Homo sapiens: one gene and its partner. The protein of the gene in region 1 interacts with the protein of each later gene in a biochemical or structural test. Each region holds a gene or a part of one and is shown on either strand. Other genes may lie near its edges.

Region 1 (3,955 bases):
GAATGAGAAGATCCAAGCTTATAAAACTAAAAAAAAAAAAAAAAATGAAGTTACATTCCAAACCTCAAATAAGGCAATTTCAATTTAAAAAATTTCAAAACTATGATGGACGTTGTACACAAGTCAGTAGAATTGTTTAGAATGGCTATACTAAAAGGTAATGATTCAGTAAAAAATGAGCTCCACATTGCACTTAGTTCCCATTCCTTAAGGAGTTCCTTAAAGCTATGTTTAAGAGCAGTATGTATAAAACAACAAACTGTTGCAATATATATAAAGCAACAAACAAAAGTTTGATCAACAAACTGTTGTTTTATACATACTATGCTTAAACGTAGCTTTAAGGAACTCCTTATCCCAAAACAACGAACTGTTTTATACACACTGTGCTTAAATGTAGCTTTTAGGGGACAAGGGGAGAGTTGACATGGACAAGCCAGAGGCGCTTTAAGCTTAATGTTGAAGGATCAGATTTGAATGGAACATCTTTGTAATGAGATATTGAGTGGGAAAATGGGATTACAGTTCCATGGTGTTGAAAATATATGGTGAGAAAAGAACACTAGTACTGGATTTAAGGTTTTGGGGAAATAACTATTACAATGACATAATTCTGCTTTATTTAACTACTGGGGGACATCCCTACATAACTTCTCTCATGCCCTTGCACCTTTTATTTCCTTTCCATAGTCATCCTTAGTAGGAGTGGTGGTTCCTGACACAGATGTACTTCCCTCATTTGCAGCCAAGCTTGGGGTGAAGGGCTCCTTTGAGGAACTGTGCCAAAACCAAGTAAGTCTTGCCTAGGAAAGCTTTATGCACACCCATGGGCCCATCGTGGAGGAGAGGATGCCTCACCAGTTCCTGCATCTGTCACAAGTGGCTGCAGCCCAAACAGACTGAATAGTTTTATGGGACTCGGGGATAGGATGGAGAGTTTAAAAAATAAAACTCTCTTTTCTATTTAAAATAATATGTTCATTGTGGGAAAAGATTGGGAAAGAAGAGTAAAAATGCTATTCAGAGAAAACTGTTAACACTTAGATGTGCCTTTTCTTCTCAGTTTTTCTTTCAATATTGGGCATATAATGTGCTTGTGCATAGTTTTATATTCCTGCTTTCATACTGCATGGCTTTGACAGGCACTTTGAGTTGGTTCATGCTTAGCCCTTCAGGCTTTTTGAAACAGCCATGCTTTAAGTGATGTTTTGTATTCTTAGGTTGTAAGGGAAGCCATTTTAGAAGACTTGCAGAAAATTGGGAAAGAAAGTGGCCTTAAAACTTTTGAACAGGTGTGTGCTACCACTGATGTTATACTGGCCTCTTGTCAGAAAGTTTTGTTTAAAGTTTCCATCTAATGAGGTTTAAATGTATAATTTCTAAGGAATTGATTTTAGATTTTGTGCCATTAACTACAAAATGACCTTTTGTAGTTACTTGTACAGCGCCCTTTTTTTGCTGTTTATTGTCCATTCTCCCTTCTCCCTACTCATTACTTTCTTAAATTATGTTTGTGGGAATGGGCATGTGTTACTGTTACCTTTACCCTTTCACTGCATCAACCTCACTTTCTTCACAGAGCACTCAGGGGGCTCTGCAGAGAAGTCCAAATCACTAATGAGCATGGATGTGTGTGTGTTCATCTTCCAGGTCAAAGCCATTTTTCTTCATCCAGAGCCATTTTCCATTGAAAATGGGCTCTTGACACCAACATTGAAAGCAAAGCGAGGAGAGCTTTCCAAATACTTTCGGACCCAAATTGACAGCCTGTATGAGCACATCCAGGATTAGGATAAGGTACTTAAGTACCTGCCGGCCCACTGTGCACTGCTTGTGAGAAAATGGATTAAAAACTATTCTTACATTTGTTTTGCCTTTCCTCCTATTTTTTTTTAACCTGTTAAACTCTAAAGCCATAGCTTTTGTTTTATATTGAGACATATAATGTGTAAACTTAGTTCCCAAATAAATCAATCCTGTCTTTCCCATCTTCGATGTTGCTAATATTAAGGCTTCAGGGCTACTTTTATCAACATGCCTGTCTTCAAGATCCCAGTTTATGTTCTGTGTCCTTCCTCATGATTTCCAACCTTAATACTATTAGTAACCACAAGTTCAAGGGTCAAAGGGACCCTCTGTGCCTTCTTCTTTGTTTTGTGATAAACATAACTTGCCAACAGTCTCTATGCTTATTTACATCTTCTACTGTTCAAACTAAGAGATTTTTAAATTCTGAAAAACTGCTTACAATTCATGTTTTCTAGCCACTCCACAAACCACTAAAATTTTAGTTTTAGCCTATCACTCATGTCAATCATATCTATGAGACAAATGTCTCCGATGCTCTTCTGCGTAAATTAAATTGTGTACTGAAGGGAAAAGTTTGATCATACCAAACATTTCCTAAACTCTCTAGTTAGATATCTGACTTGGGAGTATTAAAAATTGGGTCTATGACATATTGTCCAAAAGGAATGCTGTTCTTAAAGCATTATTTACAGTAGGAACTGGGGAGTAAATCTGTTCCCTACAGTTTGCTGCTGAGCTGGAAGCTGTGGGGGAAGGAGTTGACAGGTGGGCCCAGTGAACTTTTCCAGTAAATGAAGCAAGCACTGAATAAAAACCTCCTGAACTGGGAACAAAGATCTACAGGCAAGCAAGATGCCCACACAACAGGCTTATTTTCTGTGAAGGAACCAACTGATCTCCCCCACCCTTGGATTAGAGTTCCTGCTCTACCTTACCCACAGATAACACATGTTGTTTCTACTTGTAAATGTAAAGTCTTTAAAATAAACTATTACAGATACTTACGTTGTGGTGTTTCTTTCCTCATGGACCATGATGAAAATCAGTCTTAAACAAGGACCCCTTAAAAATCAAGTACAGTATCTGTTCTTAAACTTGGGTACACAATAGAATTATCTAGGAAGTTTAAAAAGACACTAATGCCCAGCACTTTGGGAGGCCGAGGCGGACGGATCATGAGGTCAGGAGACCGAGAACATCCTGGCTACTATGGTGAAACCCCATCTCTACTAAAAATACAAAAAACTAGCTGGGCGTGGTGGCGGGCACCTGTAGTCCCAGCTACTCAGAAGATTGAGGCAGGAGAATGGCATGAACCCGAGAGGCGGAGCTTGCAGCGAGCCGAGATCGCACCACTGCATTCCAGCCTGGGTGAAAGTGTGAGACTCTGTCTCAAAAAAAAAAAACAAAAACAAAACAAAAAAACCACTAATGCCTGGTTGCCACTCCAGGGATTCTGGCTTAAATGGCCGGATACAGCCTGGGCACTGAGATTGTTAAGAAGACCCACAGATGATTCTAGTCTGCGAACAGGTTAGTGAAGAAAAGTAAGTTCTGAAGACCAAACCTTCTTATCCCATAGCTGTAAAGAATAAAACAAATACCAGCTGAGCCAAAACTCCAACTGAGCACAAGTCATATCCATTCTTTTACCATCTTTGTTGTACTCTAATTATAATCTTGAATATTAATAGTATTCTTTTCTGGCCTCCAACTGGAGTTAAAGAGAATGTTCTTGGATGGTCTTTCTAGATTTTGAGCCCAGAAAAGCCAAAGAAATATCTATTCTTAAGGATCTGAAACAAAAGGGTAGGCAGGAATTAACTTTTAAAGTCTAGCTCCCATTATCACTTTAACTTTCTCGCCTTCACTTCCTTTCCTATTCTCCCCTCACGCATTACAGCTGAACCTCACTAGTTACCTTCCTGTTTCTCAAACGTGTCAGACACAGGTCCAGCCTGTTTTTGTTCTTGCTGCTGTCTCTAAAATGCAAATATCCCAAAGCACATGACTTGTCCCCTCATCTGCTTCAAATGCCAACTCAAGACTGTCCTACCTTCTTGCTTCACAATAACATGACTCCATCTTACATATATTTTACCTGTCTGTTCACTGCTGAATTCCCAAGTGCTCTTCCCTTATCCTC
Region 2 (7,447 bases), on another chromosome or scaffold:
GAGATAAATTGGCAGTCTTAAAAATGGGTTCACGGTCTTTCGTGCCTTTGGCTTTAGAAGACACGGTGGCCAGCCTACTGTTCTTTGGATCATCCCACTCATTTCTGTTGGGTAATTTCTCTAATTTTTCCTCCTCTGGCTTTCTTTTAGCCCCTTTATTTATCTAAGTTAAAATTTCAAATATTTTTCCAAATTACCAAAAATAATTCCATTAAGAATTTGATTGAGACTGGGCGCAGTGGCTCACACCTGTAATCCCAGCACTTTGGGAGACTGACGCAGGTGAATCACCTGAGGTCAGGAGTTTGAGACCAGCCTGGCCAACATCGTGAAACCCCATCTCTACTAAAAATACAAAAGTTAGATGGGTGTGGTGGTGCACACCTGTAATCCCAACTACTTGGGAGGCTGAGGCAGGAGAATTGCCTGAACCAGGGAGGCGGGGTTGCAGTGAGCCCAGATCCCACCAATGTACTCCAGCCTGGGTGACAGAGTGAGACTCTGTCTCACGAAAAAAAAAAAAAAAGAATTTGATTGAGTGAAAATACCTGGGCAGGAGAGACACTCCATTCTTTGTGCCTTTGATGCTCTATTGTACCTTTTTCTTTTCTTTTCAAGACATGGGGTCTCACTATGTTTCTCAGGCCGGACTTGAACTTCTGGGCTCAAGCCATCCTCCCACCTCAGACTTCTAAGTATCTGGGACTGCAGGTGCAAGCCACTGCACCCAACTCTTAATGTACCTTTTACACACATTTGTGTCACAACACCTGTGCCACACCCTTAACAGTTTTGCAGATGCACATCCCAACGTTTTTCAGTTTTGAGAAAAATCACTTTTATTTGGTAAAAATCACACATGCTTATGAAAATAATTACACATTGCACCAAAGTGACAAAGATGAAAGTAATCACTCCAGATCCTAGTTCCGAGAGGTTACTATCTTTAACAGTAGGCAAATAATAAAATCCCAGGTTTTTTGTTTTTTCTTTTGAGACGGAGTCTCGCTCTGTCACCCAGACTGGAGTGCAGTGGCACGATCTCGGCTCACTGCAAGCTCCGCCTCCCGGGTTCAGGCGATTCTCCTGCCTCAGCCTCCCCAGTAGCTGGGACTACAGGCGCCCGCCACCATGCCTGGGTAATTTTTTGTATTTTTAATAGAGACGGGGTTTCACCGTGTTAGCCAGGATGGTCTCAACCTCCTGACCTCATGATCCGCCCACCTCAGCCTCCAAAGTGCTGGGATTACAGGCGTGAGACACGGCGCCTGGCCAATCCCAGGTATTTTTTCTATGCAAATATACAGAAGGCTGGATGGATAAACAGATAATACATGTAAATACTTAAATTAGAATGTGGCCCAGGAGAACATGAACTCCATGAGGTCAGGGATTTTTGTTGGCTAGGTTCACTTCCACATCTCCTGTACCTAGAGTAAGGTTTCTCAGCCTGGGCACTACTGACATTTGGGCTGGATAACTCTTTTTGTAGGAGATTGGGGTGGGTGGGGAGCGTGCCATCCACTGCACTGTAGGATGCTGAGTAGTGTCCTTGGCCTCTACCCTGGCAGAAGCATCCATGTGACAACCAAAACTGTCTCCAGACATTGCCAATTGTCCCCTGGGGGCAAAACTGCCACCAAGTGAGAATCACTAACCTAGAAAAGTGAGTGTTCAATACACAATAAGTGCTTGTTAAATGTATTACACAACCGGAAAATGATGTAAGGGCAAGTTAAAAAGTAATGCAAACTGGCCGGGCACAGTGGCTCATGCCTGTAATTCCAACACTTTGGAGGCCGAGGTGGGCAGATCACCTTGAGGTTGGGAGTTCAAGGCCAGCCTGGCTAACATAGTGAAACCCCGTCTCTACTAAAAATACAAAAATTAGCCAGGCGTGGTGGTGGGCACCTGTAATCCCAGCTACTAGAGAGGCTGAGGCAGGAGAATCAATTGAACCCAGGAGGTGGAGGTTGCAGTGAGCCTAGATCCCCGCCATTGCAAGTCAGCCTGGGCAACAAGAGCAAAACTCCATCTCAAAAACAAACAAAAAAAAAAGTAATGCAAACTCATCTGGGTTTTGGTCATGTCCTGCATCTCCTGAGGAAGGGCAGAGGGCTGAGGAGCAGTCCTTGGGAAGCACAAACATGTGAGAATCCAGGTTGGCTCTATGCCCTACCCAGTAACGTAGCCCCAAATCTCTGCCTTAGCTGACATGGGGGCACACTGAAGTCTTGTGAAGGGTAGAAGGGACCATGTTGAGGCAGGGACAACCTTGCCTACAGGTGATTCAGGTAATCCCACAAGTTCAGCCACAGAAAACAAGCATGACCATGTGCAAAGACTTCCACGAGACCACTTGTCACAGGGTTGTTTTAATTCAAGCAACATCAACATACACCAGAAACTTGTGAAGAAAATTATGGCACATTTGTATAACTTCAGTGTCAAGAAGCCAGCGGTATTTTGCAGATAATGCAAGGTCTGTAGATCGAAAATTAAGTTGGGTGTCTTCCTTTAGTGTACAAACACCTTGGATGTTTGAGGAAATCCAAAGACAAGGTTCTAGGCATTTTATACGTGTTAACTCATGTATTATGTTAATTCTCACAATAATCCTTTGGAACTAGTACGATCACCATCCCTGCCTTATTGAGGAGGAAATGGGGTACAGAGAGCTTAAGCAACTTGCCAGTGTCATGCAGCAGGGAAGCGCTGGAGGCAGGGCTCCAACCCACGCAGCCTTGCTGCATGTTTGTGGAATGAACACAGGACTCAGGCACACAACCATCTGGCTGAGGCTCCATGAGCAGCCAGGAGCCTGGTCCCAATGCAGTCTCCTTATAGGCACAAATGGGGTGCCCCTTGAGACAGGAATAATAAAGGTGGTCACAGGAGAACGGAAAATTCCAGGCAACAGTTTCACATGACTAGCAAAGGAAACCGTTGAAATCGCTGCGTAAGCTAGGGGCGGATAAGACTCTGAAAACCAGGGTGTGGGCCAAGCTGGCTAAAGCCGACTGGACCCAACATGGTGCTGGATTCGACCCGTTTCACCTAGGACCTCTCATTATGTGCTCATTAACATACTAAGTCACACACCCACTGTGACAGCTCTGGGGAACACCCGTATTTAGTATAAAAATGTGTGGCACCGCAGTACCAAGAAATGTTTACCTTTTTCCAAGAATCTTCATGAATATTCCACCCCTTGGTTAAATAAATATTTAAAGGTAGCTCCAAACCCCGCTGGGCGTGATGCTCTGTGGTATGCCTGCACTTTTCTTTCTTCAGTACGTACTTATTCCCGTCGCAATGAATCTCCACACTTTGTTCTGCTCATCCATGAATTCCTTCTCACGACAGTGTCAAGAGCCTGGACACCAGTCAGGGTCGAGGCCTCACCAGCATCTTGGGGCCTCACTGGGCACAGACGCGTGAGCGCCCGGCCTGCAGACCTGACTCTGGCAGCCGCTCAGGCCCTCAGAGGGAGAGATGGAAGCTGGCAGGACGCAGTTGCTACCGCGCGGACCCGGCCCCCGACCAGCCTTGGCCCCTCGCGCGCCGGGACAGGGCCACAAATGACTGCACCTGGGCTTCGCTGGCCCAGGCACCACGCGACTCTAAGCGCGCCCAAAGCGACCCTCTGCGCAAACTACCCCCGGGGACGACGTCACCCGTGAGGTCCCGCGGCGCCTCCTCCTAAAGCTCGGCTGGGAAACCGTCCGCTTCCCCAAGACTTGGGGGCTTGTGGCCGAGTTGTTTTAGTTTTCCTGTAGGATTCACGGGTGGCTGAGGCAAACACGCTTGAAGGCCTAAGACTTTTAAGTCTCTTCCGCACCCTCTCTTCTGTCTCTTCCACCTGGAGGATGACCGCTTTTTTGGGGGTTTTGTTGTTGTTTTGAGACGGAGTCTCGCTCTGTCGCCCAGGCTGGATTGTAGTGGCGCCATCTCCGCTCACTGCAACCTCCGCCTCCCGGGTTCAAGCGATTCTCCTGCCTCAGCCTCCCGAGTAGCTGGGATTACAGGCGCCCACCACCATGCCCGGCTGATTTTTGTATTTTTAGTAGAGACGGGGTTTCGCCACGTTGGTCAGGCTAATATCAAACTCCTGACCTCAGGTGATCCGCCCTCCTCGGCCTCCCAAAGTGCTGGGATGACAGGCGTGAGCCACCGCGCCCGGCCGGGATGACTGTTATTAACAATTCCCGGCGTGGTTTCTAGCACCAGCCCACCTACCACACCCCACCTCGCTTGAGGCTGAATGGGTAACAGGATGAACCCGCCCCTGGGCTGGTTTTCTCTGAACCCTAACTCCTGCCGTTACGCCCCACCAGCTCTAGGCCAGGAACTCTATGTGCCCCGGCCACGCTAGAGCCCGTACCTAGACCCGTAGGTCGGGAGGCCTGCGCCCGGCACTGCGCAGACGCAGCGTGCTGTGCCCAGAACTCTTCTGTTCCCAGGAGAATCAGGGGAGTCGGCGCCGGAAGGGGCGGGTCCGAGCTGAGATTTCCAGAGCCATGGGAGCCGGAAGTCCAAGGAACTGTACCTCCATCATGACGACTCCGGTTACGTAAAAACATTCAAACAGAAAATGCTGGCCAGGCTCATGCCTGTAATCCCAGCACTTTGGGAGGCCGAGGCGGGAGGATCGCTTGTGCCCAGGAGTTGGAGACCAGCCTGGGCAACATAGTGAGACCCTCCCCCCACCCATCTCTACAAAAAATTTTAAAATTAGCTAGCTGAGATCATGCCACTGCACTCCAGCCTGGACAACAAAGTGAGACTATGTCTCAAAAAAATTTAAAAATTACCCACGCCTGTAGTGTCAGATAGTCAGGAGGCAGAGGTTGGAGGATGACTTGAGCCTTGGGGATCGAGGGTGTAGTGAGGTATGATCGCACCACTGCACTCCAGCCTGGGCAACAGAGCAAGACCCTGTCTCAAAAACTATATAAAAGAAAAAAGGGCTGGGTCGGTGGCTCACGCCTGTCATGCCAGCACTTTGGGAGGCCGAGGCGGGTAGATCACCTGAGGTCAGGAGTTTGAGACCAGCCTGACCAACAAGGTGAAACCCTGTCTCTACTAAAAATACAAAAATTAGCTGGCCATGATGGTGGGTGCCTGTAATCCCAGCTACTGGGGAGGCTGAGGCAGGAGAATCACTTGAACCCCAGAGGTGGAGGTTGCAGTGAGCCGAGATCACACCACTGCACTCCAGCCTGGGCGACAGAGCGAGAGACTCCGTCTCAAAAAAAAAAAAAAAAAAAAAAAAACAGAAAAAAGGCCGGGCACGGTGGCTCACTCCTGTAATTCCAGAACTTTGGGAGGCCAAGGCGGGCGGATCAGGAGTTCGAGACTGCCTGGGCAACATAGCGAAACCCCGTCTCTACTAAAAATACAAAAAATTAGCCAGGCGTGGTGGCGGGCTCCTGTAATCCCAGCTACTCAGGAGGCTTAGGCAGGAGAATCACTTGAACCCAGGAAGCAGAGGCTGCAGTGAGCCGAGATCACGCCATTAAACTCCAGCCTCGGTGACAGAGTGAGACTCCATCCCCGCTCCGCTCCCTCACCTCCCGCCAAAAAAAAAAAAGAAAATGCACTGCAATAGAAAAATAAAAGTACTACACTTTGGTCAAACAGGGTAACTACTAGAACGTAAAATGATCTTTTTGAAACTATCCACATTTGTTACACGTGTTGAAAATGTAGGATATATATGTTATATATATACTTATATATGTTATATATACTTATATATGTTATATACTTATATATGTTATGTACTTATATATTATATATACTTATATATGTTATATCTACTTATGTTATATACTTATATATGTTATATATACTTATATATGTTATACATACTTATATGTTATATATACTTATGTTATATACTTATATATGTTATATATACTTATACATGTTATACATACTTATATGTTATATATACTTATATATGTTATATATACTTATATATGCTATATATACTTATATATGCTATGTATACTTATATATGTTATATATATACTTATATGTATGTTATATATACTTATATATGTTATATATGCTTATATGTATGTTATATATGCTTATATGTTATATATACTTACATATGTTATATATACTTACATATGTTATATGTACTTACATATGTTATATATATACATATATGTTATATATATATAATTATATATATATAAAACAAAAAGCACGGTTACTACAAAGAAAACAGGTAAACATTAAGTGGAGTAAAAGTATATCCTGTTATATAAGGGACTTGAACATGTCTGGGCATGGTGGCTCAAGCCTGTAATCCCAGCACTTTGGGAGGCTGAGGCGGGTGGATTACTGGAGGTCAGGAGTTCGAGACCTGGGCAACATAGCAAGACCTTGTCTCTATTAAAAAATAGATAGATAGATAGATAGATAGATACATAGAACATCAAAAGAGGGAGAGAGAAAGCAGACAGATGTGGCAAAATATACACAATTGGTAAATTTGGGTGAAGGGAATATAAGTTATTTCTACTAATCTTGCAATTCTTATGTATATTTGCAATGATTTCTAAATAAAAGTTTTTAATTACCAATTGAAATAAAGTAAAATAAGTCACTATCTAGCCTTTTCTAGACAAATATTTTAAACTCTTACACAGAGATAAGTTAATCAAGAAACGTATTTCCTGGAAAAACCCGTGATATGGGTGGAGCCACCTGGGAATAAAAGGTCGGAACATCATAATCACTGTCAGACTCAACTTCCATCATTCTCCTCCAGGCGCTATGGAGTCTAATCCAGGCACTTTGGAAGGCTGAGGCTGGAGGATCGATTGAGGCCAGGAGTTTGGGACCACCCTGGGCAACATAGCAAGATCTCATTTCTGAAAAAAGAATTATCATCCACTCACCCAGAACAGCTCTCCAAACTGTAAGTTTCATTCAAGGTTTGCTTGTTTGGGTGATGGGATGTGTGTGTGTGTGTGTGTGTGTGTGTGTGTGTGTGTGTGTGTATGTGTGTGTGAGTGTTGGAAGGAGGGTCTGTCTAAACTTAATGCCCTAAAGATATTGTCAGATATTGTGATGAGGGGAATTTCATCTTCTACCCTTTATGAGGTTGAATTGTAAATTCGAAAATCCTGATTCTGGGTTTTTATTTTGAGGGGATAGTTTTCTGTTTTCTGTGGCATTGGATATTGGCATTTTCAGAAAAGAGCATGCATCCAAAATGAAAATGATGAAGCCTACCTGTCTTTTGAACTCAGCTCAGGGAAAAGCTGATGATCTCTAATTTTTGTGATTCCTCCTTTCATTAAATTTAAGGTCCAGTGAGGGTGAAGTTTCCCTAAAGAGGCAATAATTTATCAGCAGCAACAGGATGAAATGGAGGGGCTTTTCTTCACACTCTATATATTATGTTAGGATCTCTCAGGAAACTGAG

Evidence for each region. The genes of interacting proteins can lie anywhere in the genome.
Region 2: the proteins of ACSL5 (region 1) and USP29 form a complex in vitro, tested with the Homo sapiens proteins (one study listed by BioGRID).

Annotation. Positions count from the first base shown.
Region 1 is NC_000010.11:112,425,568-112,429,522, forward strand, and holds the end of ACSL5 (long-chain-fatty-acid--CoA ligase 5), read left to right. Parts: exon of another isoform or gene 1-690; coding exon 691-792; exon of another isoform or gene 793-1,220; coding exon 1,221-1,292; exon of another isoform or gene 1,293-1,650; coding exon 1,651-1,791; 3' UTR 1,792-2,809; downstream 2,810-3,955. UniProt on the Homo sapiens protein: Catalyzes the conversion of long-chain fatty acids to their active form acyl-CoAs for both synthesis of cellular lipids, and degradation via beta-oxidation.
Region 2 is NC_000019.10:57,115,538-57,122,984, forward strand, and holds the start of USP29 (ubiquitin carboxyl-terminal hydrolase 29), read left to right. Parts: upstream 1-4,447; 5' UTR 4,448-4,692; intron 4,693-6,787; 5' UTR 6,788-6,937; intron 6,938-7,447.